Regions from separate parts of the Homo sapiens genome. Here region 2 is linked to region 1. The links come from fine-mapping of genetic effects on gene expression. A gene starts in region 1. The other region holds a variant in brackets. All regions are shown on one strand. Distances are between the middles of the regions.

Region 1 (5,364 bases):
GGGCCAAGGAAGAAGGGAGAGGCTGGGCGCCATGGCTCACGCCTGTAATCCCAGCACTTTGGGAGGCCGAGGCAGGTGGATCACCTGAGGTCAGGAGTTCAAGACCAGCCTGGCCAACATATTGAAACTCCATCTCTACTAAAAATACAAAAATTAGCTGGGCGTGGTGGCGTGCACCTGTAGTCCCAGCTACTTGGGAGACTGAGGCAGGAGAATTGCTTGAACCCGCAAGGCAGAGGTTCCAGTGAGCCGAGATCACGCCACCGCACTGCAGCCTGGGTGACAGAGCAAGACTCTGTCTCAAAAATAAAATAAAATAAAAAATAAAGTCATTCTAGGAGATCAACAGACCAGTTTAAACACAATTTGACTCCAGCCTCTGGACCCATTTATCCAAACTGTCCCCAAAGTCTCAGGGGGCAGCTCAGGTAAAGGTGGCACCATTTGGTGCCCAAGTCACAGTGGCTCTGCTGCTCTTGGCAGCAGCCCTCTCTCTTGGCATCTCCTGTCCTTCCCTGGACTTCCTATGACAGTTTCTCCTGGGGATGCTATCTCCGTGTTTCTGTCTTCACGGCACACGTGTAGATGTACCAGGAGTCCCGATGTCTCATGCATCCCCAGGACTTTAGCAGGGCCTACCGCTGGCCTTTGCCTTCCAAGAGCCCAGCCCATCTCTCTGTCCATGAGATGCTTCCTCCAAGCCCAGCTGCCTGCCCTGGGTTTTGAGGTTACGACTTCAGTGAGCACCAGCACACATCCACGCACACACAGCACTCAGGTTCCTGGCATACAGCGCTTGTGTTTGCTTCTCTCCTCTTTCACAACTCAGGTATGGATGAAAATCCCTGGCTCCTAGAGATGGGTGAACAGGGTGGACATCATCCTAACATGTGTGGAGAGAGGGAGGTGGAGCACGTGTGCCTGGGAACACTGGACAAAATCCCCGTGGCTGGAGAGCGTCCCCCAGGGTTGTGGCTTCCTGGGAAACATTCCGGTCTCTCCCCACCACCAGCGCTATGTGAAGTACACTCGAAACCACAGTGGTAGCCGTGGTGGTCCAGAGATCCTGGTTTGCGCTTTCCCTTCAAGTCAAAAATGCAGGCTTGGAAGGGAGACAGAGCTGGGAATAACCACAGCCCTCCCAAGGCCCTTCCAGCCCTGGGAATCCGTATTGGTCAGGAAAGACCTCATGGAAAATTGGAGCTGGGGATAAAGTGTGGAGGATAGTAGGATTGTTTTTAAGTTTTTAATTGCAAAGTTAATTTTCAACAAAATATATATAGACATTTTTGACAGAAGAAAGTAAAACGCTCCTCTGCCACCCCCACAGCACAGCCCACTCCCATTCCTGCTGTTCCTTCTGGGCCTGGTCCACATGCCCACCAGGCACGTGGCACCGCTTGCCAACGAAGGCAGACTGCAGTGGGGGTGGGGGGTTTCTCTGGACCTGTGAGGCTCTAAGCCCCCAAGGATTCAGAGGAGAGAATTTCCATCATCCTCTGAGATCACAGGAAGATTCTGTAATGAGGGTGGCGGGGAGTGAACTCTGCTCCTTCAGAAGGTTGGAGGTGGGGGTGACGGGCAGGTGGCCACAGTATAAACAGAAGTTAGGTCAAAATCCGAGCCTCCCCCCAACCCCCAACACTGGCCTCTTCTCCACCTCTAACCGCTCCCACTCCAGCCCCATCCACAGTCTGGTCCGGTGAAACGTGCCTAAGCTCGCAGGCGGCTCCAACGCAGCCACCCGGTGACCTTGGACAGAGGCCTGACCTCAGGTGTCTCAGTTTCCTCATTTCTATTGTGAGCCTGTCCACGGCAAGGCTCAATTGCGACCGAGCTTGTGGCGCGCCCAGTGCACAGCCCCACCCGGAAGAAAGCTCCCTCCCGGGTGGATGTGAACATAACCGGCTTGGGGAGGGGGCCCGAGCACGGGAGGGCTGGGATGGGGGTCACCCAGGAGCCCCGCCGCGCGGCCCTCGGGTCGCCGGCCCCTGCGCTGTGACCGCGGCGAGATAAGGTCCCAGGCGCTGCCCTCGCTCCTCGCCGCATCCCCGGCGGCGCCCCCAGCCGGGCGCCCGGCACTGAACGGGTGCGGGGCTGGGCCGGGGCCAGGGCCGGCCCGGGGAAGCGAGTGGGGCGGGGCCGCCGCGCCCGCTCCCCCTCCCCGCCGCCTGCCGTCTTCTCCTCCTCCCGCCGCCCGGGCTCAGAGCGGCGGCAGCAGCGGCCGCGGCGACAGCTCCAGCTCCGGCTCCGGCTCCGGCTCCGGCTCCGGCTCCCGCGCCTGCCCCGCTCGGCCCAGCGCGCCCGGGCTCCGCGCCCCGACCCCGCCGCCGCGCCTGCCGGGGGCCTCGGGCGCCCCCGCCGCCCGCCTCACGCTGAAGTTCCTGGCCGTGCTGCTGGCCGCGGGCATGCTGGCGTTCCTCGGTGCCGTCATCTGCATCATCGCCAGCGTGCCCCTGGCGGCCAGCCCGGCGCGGGCGCTGCCCGGCGGCGCCGACAATGCTTCGGTCGCCTCGGGCGCCGCCGCGTCCCCGGGCCCGCAGCGGAGCCTGAGCGCGCTGCACGGCGCGGGCGGTTCAGCCGGGCCCCCCGCGCTGCCCGGGGCACCCGCGGCCAGCGCGCACCCGCTGCCGCCCGGGCCCCTGTTCAGCCGCTTCCTGTGCACGCCGCTGGCTGCTGCCTGCCCGTCGGGGGCCCAGCAGGGGGACGCGGCGGGCGCTGCGCCGGGCGAGCGCGAAGAGCTGCTGCTGCTGCAGAGCACGGCCGAGCAGCTGCGCCAGACGGCGCTGCAGCAGGAGGCGCGCATCCGCGCCGACCAGGACACCATCCGTGAGCTCACCGGCAAGCTGGGCCGCTGCGAGAGCGGCCTGCCGCGCGGCCTCCAGGGCGCCGGGCCCCGCCGCGACACCATGGCCGACGGGCCCTGGGACTCGCCTGCGCTCATTCTGGAGCTGGAGGACGCCGTGCGCGCCCTGCGGGACCGCATCGACCGCCTGGAGGTGAGCGCCGCGCGCCGTCGGGGGAGCCGCCCGGGTGGTGTGAGGGGCCGCCCGGCCGCGGTCGTCCGGCGGTCCCCGAGCCTCCGGTCTCCCGTCTGTGTTCCGGGGACGATCGCGCCTTCCTCGCTGGCGAGGCGGGGGGATTTCGATAGGGAACGCGGGCAGGCGTCTGGCACGGTGACTGAGGCACAGAGGGCGCGCCAGAAAGATTCGCTCCCCACCCTTTTCCGTCTCCAGGCACCTCTCTGAGCCTCAGTTTCTGTGTCTGTAAAATAGGTATAACAGTGTCCACTTGTAGTGGAAATTGAATCAAATGTAGGTGTGTGAAAATGCTTGGCACGTACTAGGACCTCATTAAATGTCCCTTTCATTTCCTTCTTCCGGACACCCCCAAATCAGCCCAGCTCCACGCTCACACTTTATGGCCAGGAGATGGATGCGCTGTCCAAAGGACTTGGGGTCCTCCCCTCATTACACAGAGCCGGGAACAGAGTGCCCTATAAGACAAACCTGGGTGCCCCTCACCACCTCCCTACCCTGAATCTCCCACTCTGGCTCAGACTATGACCCAAACCGCAGGAGCTCAGGTGCCAGGCGCCCAGCCTCACACACCTGGAAGCCCACAGCTCTTGGGTGGGGGCTGAATGGAGAACAGGGCCCCCCGAGCTCCTCCTCCTCCACTCACTTTTCCAGGCTTTCCTGACTCAGGCTTGGGGTCAGACACAAGGGGTCCAGCATGGGGGAACCCACTCTTGGCTCTCATGTGACCCTGGGCCAGTCATTTCCCCCCTGGAGTCCCATGGCCACCTTCCTCCCTGTAAGAATGAATTTGGGGCTCCCAGAAGTGCAAGGCAGACAGACTGGGCAGGACAAACATCCGGGACACATTCACTACCCCAGCCATGGCCTGACTTCCAGACCACAAGGAAGGGGGTTAAGCAACAAAATCAGATCTGTGGAAGGAAGAGAGAGAAAGAGGCCAAAGCCCGCGCTGCCCCCTCTGCTACCTCCACCCAGGTGGAGTGCAGCAGGCAAGTTGGAGGGAGGAGAGAGGCGGGGAGTAAATGCAGGGACCCCTTACTCCCGGGGCTTTTTAAGTTAAATCCTGGGCAAGCAGCACTGGTGATGCCCACTCACAAGGCTGAGGATGTCGTGGTCTGACAGCCCTCCAGGACGTCTGTACTGGTGTCAGCACCCTCCCCACAGGGTGTCAGAGTGCAGCCAGTCAGCCATTGCAGCCAACCCCTCACCTTACGGATGAGAAAACTCAGCTCAGAAACGTCCTAAGAGAGGTGGCAGAGGCAGGAGAAAAGCCGGGCCCATACCCACCTCTTCCCCGACTCCAGCTCTGGGGGATTTCTAGGATGAGAGAACCAAGAGCAGGAAAATAATCAGGAAAAAGGTGAAAGTATGCAATGAAGGGAAGTCTTAGTTTTCTCGCCTGTAAAATGGGGATAGTAATAGCACCTACCTCACTGGGATATTAGGAGGATTAAGTACTTTATATGAAAGGCCAAGAATAGTGCCTGGCACACAGGTATGTTCAGTCAATTTGAGTGATGGCTATTTTTATCATTAAGCTATAATATTACTCATTTTTAAAATACAGCCAAAACTCAAAATAGGAACAAACAGGTTTTAGGCAACAGGTTTTAGTCATGTAAAAAACAATTTTTGACTTTCATTGAATAAACTTCCTCGTGCCTGCCATAGCCCCTGCCCCCACGCCCAGATGGCACAGGTGGCTCCTCCCACGTCTGGGGCTGGCAGGCTTGGACCTGCCTTGGACCTGTGCCCCCAGCACCTGCAGCATTTGGCAGGGTGGCCTCCCTTCCGGTTAGCCCGCTGAGGTTGGGGGGATCCTGGCAGCTGGAATTTGGCAACAGGTCAGCCTTCCAGGCTGGGGGAGCCCTGGCTTCCCCATGTATACCTTTTCCTCTTTTCTGAGTGCAGCAGCCACAGACAGAGAAGGGCGGGGCCCTGCTTGGCCACCAGGTCTGCTTTCTGAGCGTGGCAACAGCCACAGCTAGTCTTTTGGGGGCCTCTGGGAGGGGCTGGGGCTGGAGCTGGAGCACAGCAGACACAGGGTGAGACCACTTGGCTCAGCGGAGTCCCATGCACCCGTTAGCCACTGTCCAATCTCTCCCCTCTCTTCTCATTCAGTATCCTCAAAGTGCCCAGATTTTCAGGGTCTCCTTTCCCTCCCAGGATACACTGAAGGTGCTCTTGCTAATGTCCCCAAGATGATAAATGAGGACTTCTCAGTCCTTATCTTGGGGGAACCCTCTCTGACACCTGACCCTGCTGATCATCCCCTCTTGCAGGTCTCCATGCCCTGGGCTTCCAGCCGCCTCTCACAGCAGCC
Region 2 (5,364 bases), 67 kb after region 1:
TGAAAATGGCCCCAAGAAGGAGATGATTCTTTCAAGGGACACAGGCAGCTTCTCTCCTTGTCCTCTGGGGAGGTGCTGACCCCTCAGAAACCCCTTCCCCCAACTTGACCCCAGGCTGAACAGACCACTGCATCTCACTGGGCCAGCAGCCCCCCCAGCCCCCAGCCTTGGTGGGGACCAAGCAGCCTTTCCCGTCCCCTCCTCGACCCGTACAGTTGAGAGCCAGGGGCTGGTGTGTGGGAGCTGCTACCTGGCAGTTTCTCGAGGGGTCACCGAGCCTCTGGTGGGACACCTGGGCAGGAGTGCTCTCACCACGAGGCTGCTTCCGCAGGGAACCCTGGCCTGCCCGCGACTTCGCATCAGGGACCGCATGCTGATTTGTACTGCTCTCTGCTGGGTTTTCTATGTTCTTTTCGAGTGTGGGAAAAGGGTTTTAGTAGAAGGGTGAATCGTATTTTACACAGCGGTCTTATTTATATAAATGTCTTGGTTTTTACAATTAAAATGACCAAAAACTGACCTCATTCTACAGTCTCTTGATGTTAGGGGAAGGTGTGATCAGTATCCTCAGGCTCAGGCACCTAGAGATGTTTCTGGTTAAACTGTGAGGCTGCTGGAAGCCCCTGGCCCAGGCATAGCCCCAGTGGACATGGCCTGGCCCCTCTCACCATTAGGTCACTGAGGTTGGGGGCCAAGTGCAGCTGGATGGGGCCACACGGACACTGAGATACGCTTGGCAGCTGGACTAAGCTACAGTAAAGATGTTTTCAGGCCCACAGAATTTCACTCAGTTCAACAGATGCTTATTCAATAGCCACTGAGGGTCAGGCCCCAGGAGCTGAGGATACAAAGACAAGCCATAGGTCTGGCCTCAGTGAGCTCTCGGTCCACTGCAGAGGACATGGGCCCCATCATTTCACTCATACGAAAAGTAACATTGTAAGATAGGGCGGGGCATTCTGGCAGGAGGAAGGAGGGACTCCAAGCCCAGCCTGGGGAGTACAGGGTCTCCAGTGGGGTAAGGCCTGACAGCCGACGCTTGAACAGAAAACGGGATCTTACCAAGGGAGAGGGCTGCTCTCAGGACAGAAAACTAGACATTACCCCAAGGCACTTGGGGTAAACGCAGGAGATGAGAAGTGACTTGAGGACAGGAGCCACGTGCAGGCCTGTGAAGCCCCCTCAGGGGTTGTCCCCTGAATCCGAGCCTCAGAAGTGAACACCCCGGGCGTGGGGAGAGCGGGGAGAGCCCGCCTTCCCATGCACACAGGGGCCCTCCTGAGATGGTCCCTAGGATACATGGGTCTGGGAGCTGAAGCCCTGTCCTTATCCCAGTCCCAGTCCCACCCTTGTGAGACTGAGCGTCCAGCACTAACAAGATCCATCAACAGATTGGCTGGGCAGCCTCATGGCGAGCAGGTAAGGTTTGCTCAGACCAGACCCATGCAGCCAAGGGGAAGGTTGCTGCCGTGTGCGCACCCGGTCCAAGAGCAGTGGGACAGACAAGAACGAGAAGGCGCAGTCGTTGCCTCAAGGCTGACCATCTGGTTGGGTGGCTTTCCAGCTGGTCCTGGCCCTCTGGGACTTGGCGGATGGGGCAGCTTCTTGGCCTCAGACCTGCCCTGGCCAGAACCCTGTGCCACTCGGGTGTTGCGGAGGGATTGGCAGAAGGGAGTGAACGGAGAGGCGGGGGCCGGCGCTGGAGGTGGGGAGCAGGCGCCGAGGCCTAGAATAGCTGCGCTGATTACCGCCCGCTCTGCATCTGTTCTCTCCTTTCATCTGCTGCACGTGGGCGCCAAAAAGCGAGGCTGGCTCAGCCGGCAACCAGGGTGGTGGGGGTGGCAGGAGCGTGGGTGCTGAGGCCCGCAGAGCTGGTTCGGGTCTGGCCCTGCTCCTCCTAACTTCTCTGTCTTCAGTGGCTCTGTCTGTAGAATGGGGATACACCGCACCCACCTCACGAGGTTGACGGGAGGCCTGGGACCGCAACTGGAACAGGTGACACCCCCGAGGTGTGCACCGCATTATCGCTGTGCCCCTCCTCTTGCCACCTGTGGACGGGGTGCTGACACCAGCTCCTCGGGGTGGGTGGAGATTCAGTGAGATGAGGCTTGTGCAGTGTCTGGCCCTCACAGTCACACCGTACGGTGGCACCACAGGTGGCGAGCAAACCTTCTACCCTAGTCACTCCTGTCACTGCAGCAGAACCCTCCTCACTTGCCTTCCCAGAAATGGGTCATTCACAGTCTCCCCTTCCTGCTCCCAGACAATGGTGTGGTCACCGTTGGGCCAGGTCAGGTGACGGAACCATGGCAGGTGTGTTTCCCAGGGGTTTCCTTGGCCCCGGTGGCTTTACTTCCACTCCCCAAGACCCATGCCAGACGTGGACACCTGGCCTTCCAGGGCCCTTGCTGCCCGTAACATTCAATAAGCATTTGATGATGGGCTGAAAGGAGAGGTCCGTGACCACGGAGAAGGCACCGTCCTTGCCACCCAGCATACAGGCTACTGAGGGCCAGACCCAGGAACAGAAAAGCAAGACAGGTTCATTTGCCAGAAGAGAGAAGACGGGGTTCAGGGAATCTGGAGTTCAGAGAAGAGAGTGACTCTCACTAGGGGGCTGGGGAGGACTTCACAGAGGAGGTGGCATTGAACTGGGCCTTGGCATTTTCCCAGGAAGGGGTGAGATGGGGGTGGGGAGGGGGAAGTCACCATTGTTTGAGGGACCAGCCGCCCGTGCAGAGTGGG[G/A]GCTCCAGGAAGCTCACAATGGGTTCAGGGAAGCCGGGCAGTGGCCGTGGATGGGAGAGGATATGGGGGTGGGGAGAGAGGACGGGCTGAAGGTGAAAGGGTTTGCTGGGGCTCAGGAGGAAGGAGGCTTCCCCCACTTGGCAGGCACTGGGCTTACCCTGATGTGTAACTCTCAGCAGACCTCCAAATTAGGGGTTGCTGTTGCTATTTACAAATGGAGAAACTCAGGTTTGGAGGATGGAGTGTCTGACCCAGGGTCCAGCTAGGGAGCAGCTGTAGCCGGGACTTGAACCTGGGCTGCCTGCCTGGATAGTCCCTGCTCTTCCACACACGCTGCATTCTCAGACCTTCCGTCCACTTCCCTCCTGCCCCGTCCCCCACAGACAGCTGGGCTCCCCGCGGCCTGGCCACGCCTTGGGCCGTCCATCTCCTAGCTGCTTCCCTCACCATCGCCAGGCCTCCCCTGCACCCTCCACGGCAGTTGCAGCATTTATAGTGGAGGCAGTGACCACAGGCCTGCCACCAACCCCGCCTCTTCGCTGCCATCTGCAGTATGGGGAGGAGGGCCTCCCCCCACTAACACCCCAGTCCGCTCTGCTGGGCCCAGCCAGAGTCAGTGTGGGGCAAAAATCGGAAACCTTGTCTGGACATGTCTAAAGGGAGTCACAGGCCCCAACCCCAGGGCCTGTCCCTCTGCCTGGGAGAGCAGTGAGTGCCCCGCCAGATCAGAGAGAGTGAACCATAGGTCCCCTTGCTGGGACTCCAGAACCACAGGCCTCCCAAGAGTGGGGAGCAAGAGGTGCCGAGGCAGTCAGTGTGAGAAGGTGGAGGGTGAGGGCTTGGTCACGAGGCCTTGTGTCGCCTGTGGAAGGGAGCGTGCTGCCGCGGGGACAGCCAGCTTTGAAGCTCTCTGCGGGGCCTTTGGAGAAATCTGGTGAATATTTCATGTTGCCTTGGAAGAGGTGCAGAGAAACTCCAGCATCTTGTTTAACCTACTTCCTGCTTCTCCAGAGGACAGACCCTACAGGTAGGCAAGGGGGTGTGCCCTTGGGCTATGGGGGCCCCCCTCAAACCAGTGTCCCCCACCCACGCCCCACAGCAGGAGTGAGAACTGTGCAGCAGAGGCTCAGCTCCTTAAGCGCAGAAGCAGGCAGCATCTGATTGTGTCCAGGTTTGGGAGGGGGTTGTCAGAGTGCAGCCACAAAAGCCACCACCCTGTCCTAATTTCCTTTCGTTCTCCTCATCTCATATTTAAAACAACCACCTCCCACTGCCAGCTGCTATCTCCAATCCTTAGAAAGGCCGTGGGGGTGGAAGGAGAGCACGCCTAGAAGGCAGAAGACTCGAATCATTTTGAATAATATTCCCAAACTATTAGATTCCTCAGACGTGCTAGGCACAGCACCAAGCATTTCACCAACCCCATCTTCCCTAATGTGTACGTCCATTCTGTGAGGAGATGCCCTCAGTGTCCCCCTCATGCAGATGAGAAGACCCACAACCTAAGTGGCAGAGCCAGGGTTCCCCGCAGGCCTGTGACAGTTCTGAACCCTCTCCAGGGTTGCCTGCCAGCTTGAACAAGCCACTTCGCTTCTCAGATCTCAGTTTCATCACCTGCAAGACAGGACTCGCAGCTCCGGCTATGCCTGCTTCCCAAAGTTACTGTAGGGCTCCCAGGAGACAGTGGCCCTGAATGTGAGTGTGCTTTAAAGTTGGAAGGGCTGATCAAAGATTTGGGTCAGGTGCTGTGGGGGGCCATCCCTTCCTTGGGCCTCCACTCTGGGTGCGAGGCTTGGGAGTCTGGAAGGCTGGGGTGTGCCAGGTAGGTAGGTTATCATCTCTAAGCCCCTGTAGGCACTGGGCCCCTGCAGAGCCAAAGCAGGAGAGGCAGGGCGGCCACACACACACATGCACCTGGTCCAGTGACCAAGGGCCCCAGGTGGCTGGGACCAGAACCCAGAAAGACAATCCCAATGGCAATTATGTGGGAGGACTTGGCTGTTGACCCAGCAGGGTCCACACTGCGTTTGTCCTTCCAGTCTCAAAATGGCCAATGAAGCAGCCTGGAAGTTTCCATGCGACTCCTCCCTCCCCTAACAGTAGGGAGATGGCGTCATAGAGAACATGTGACATGCCAGGATGGGAGCTGGCCTCAGGTCTCCACTGCACATCAGCAGCTCAGAGTGATACCAGCTCCTCCAGAACCCCTTCCCCGCTGCAACCCATGACACATAGGCACTTTGCGTCCCCACGGTGCCACATCTTCTGTCATGGTGTCTATACCTGCTATGCTTTATTTACTCGATGGCTGGGGCTGTCTTATCTCTCTGTGCATCCCCAATGCCTAGCCCAGGGCCTGATATAAATTGAAAATGCATTGTGACTAGCAAGTGAGTGAATGAAAATAGGAATGGATGAGTGGATGGATGCGTGGGTGGGTAGATGGGCGGATGGACAGATAGATGAATGGATGGGTGGATGGGTGGATGGATGGAATAGATTTCTCTAGGAGGTGCATCAGCAATGACTGGGTCGGGCTGATATGAATCGAAAATGCATTGTGACTAGCAAGTGAGTGAATGAAAGAACAGGTGGGTGGATGAATGGGTGGATGGATGG

Evidence for each region.
Region 2: its variant is fine-mapped to the expression of NPTXR in spleen (GTEx, PIP above 0.99).

The regions. Positions count from the first base shown.
Region 1 is chr22:38,840,870-38,846,233 of GRCh38, reverse strand. NPTXR (neuronal pentraxin receptor) reads left to right here and starts at 2,206. Exons shown (of 5, transcript NM_014293.4): 1 at 2,206-2,999. The coding sequence starts at 2,376. RefSeq lists a silencer at 2,618-2,687.
Region 2 is chr22:38,773,663-38,779,026 of GRCh38, reverse strand. DNAL4 (dynein axonemal light chain 4) reads left to right here. Exons shown (of 4, transcript NM_005740.3): 4 at 1-519. Among named protein-coding and RNA genes, the nearest start is that of DNAL4, 18 kb to the left of the region's middle. The variant G/A (reference allele first, on the strand shown) is at 2,746.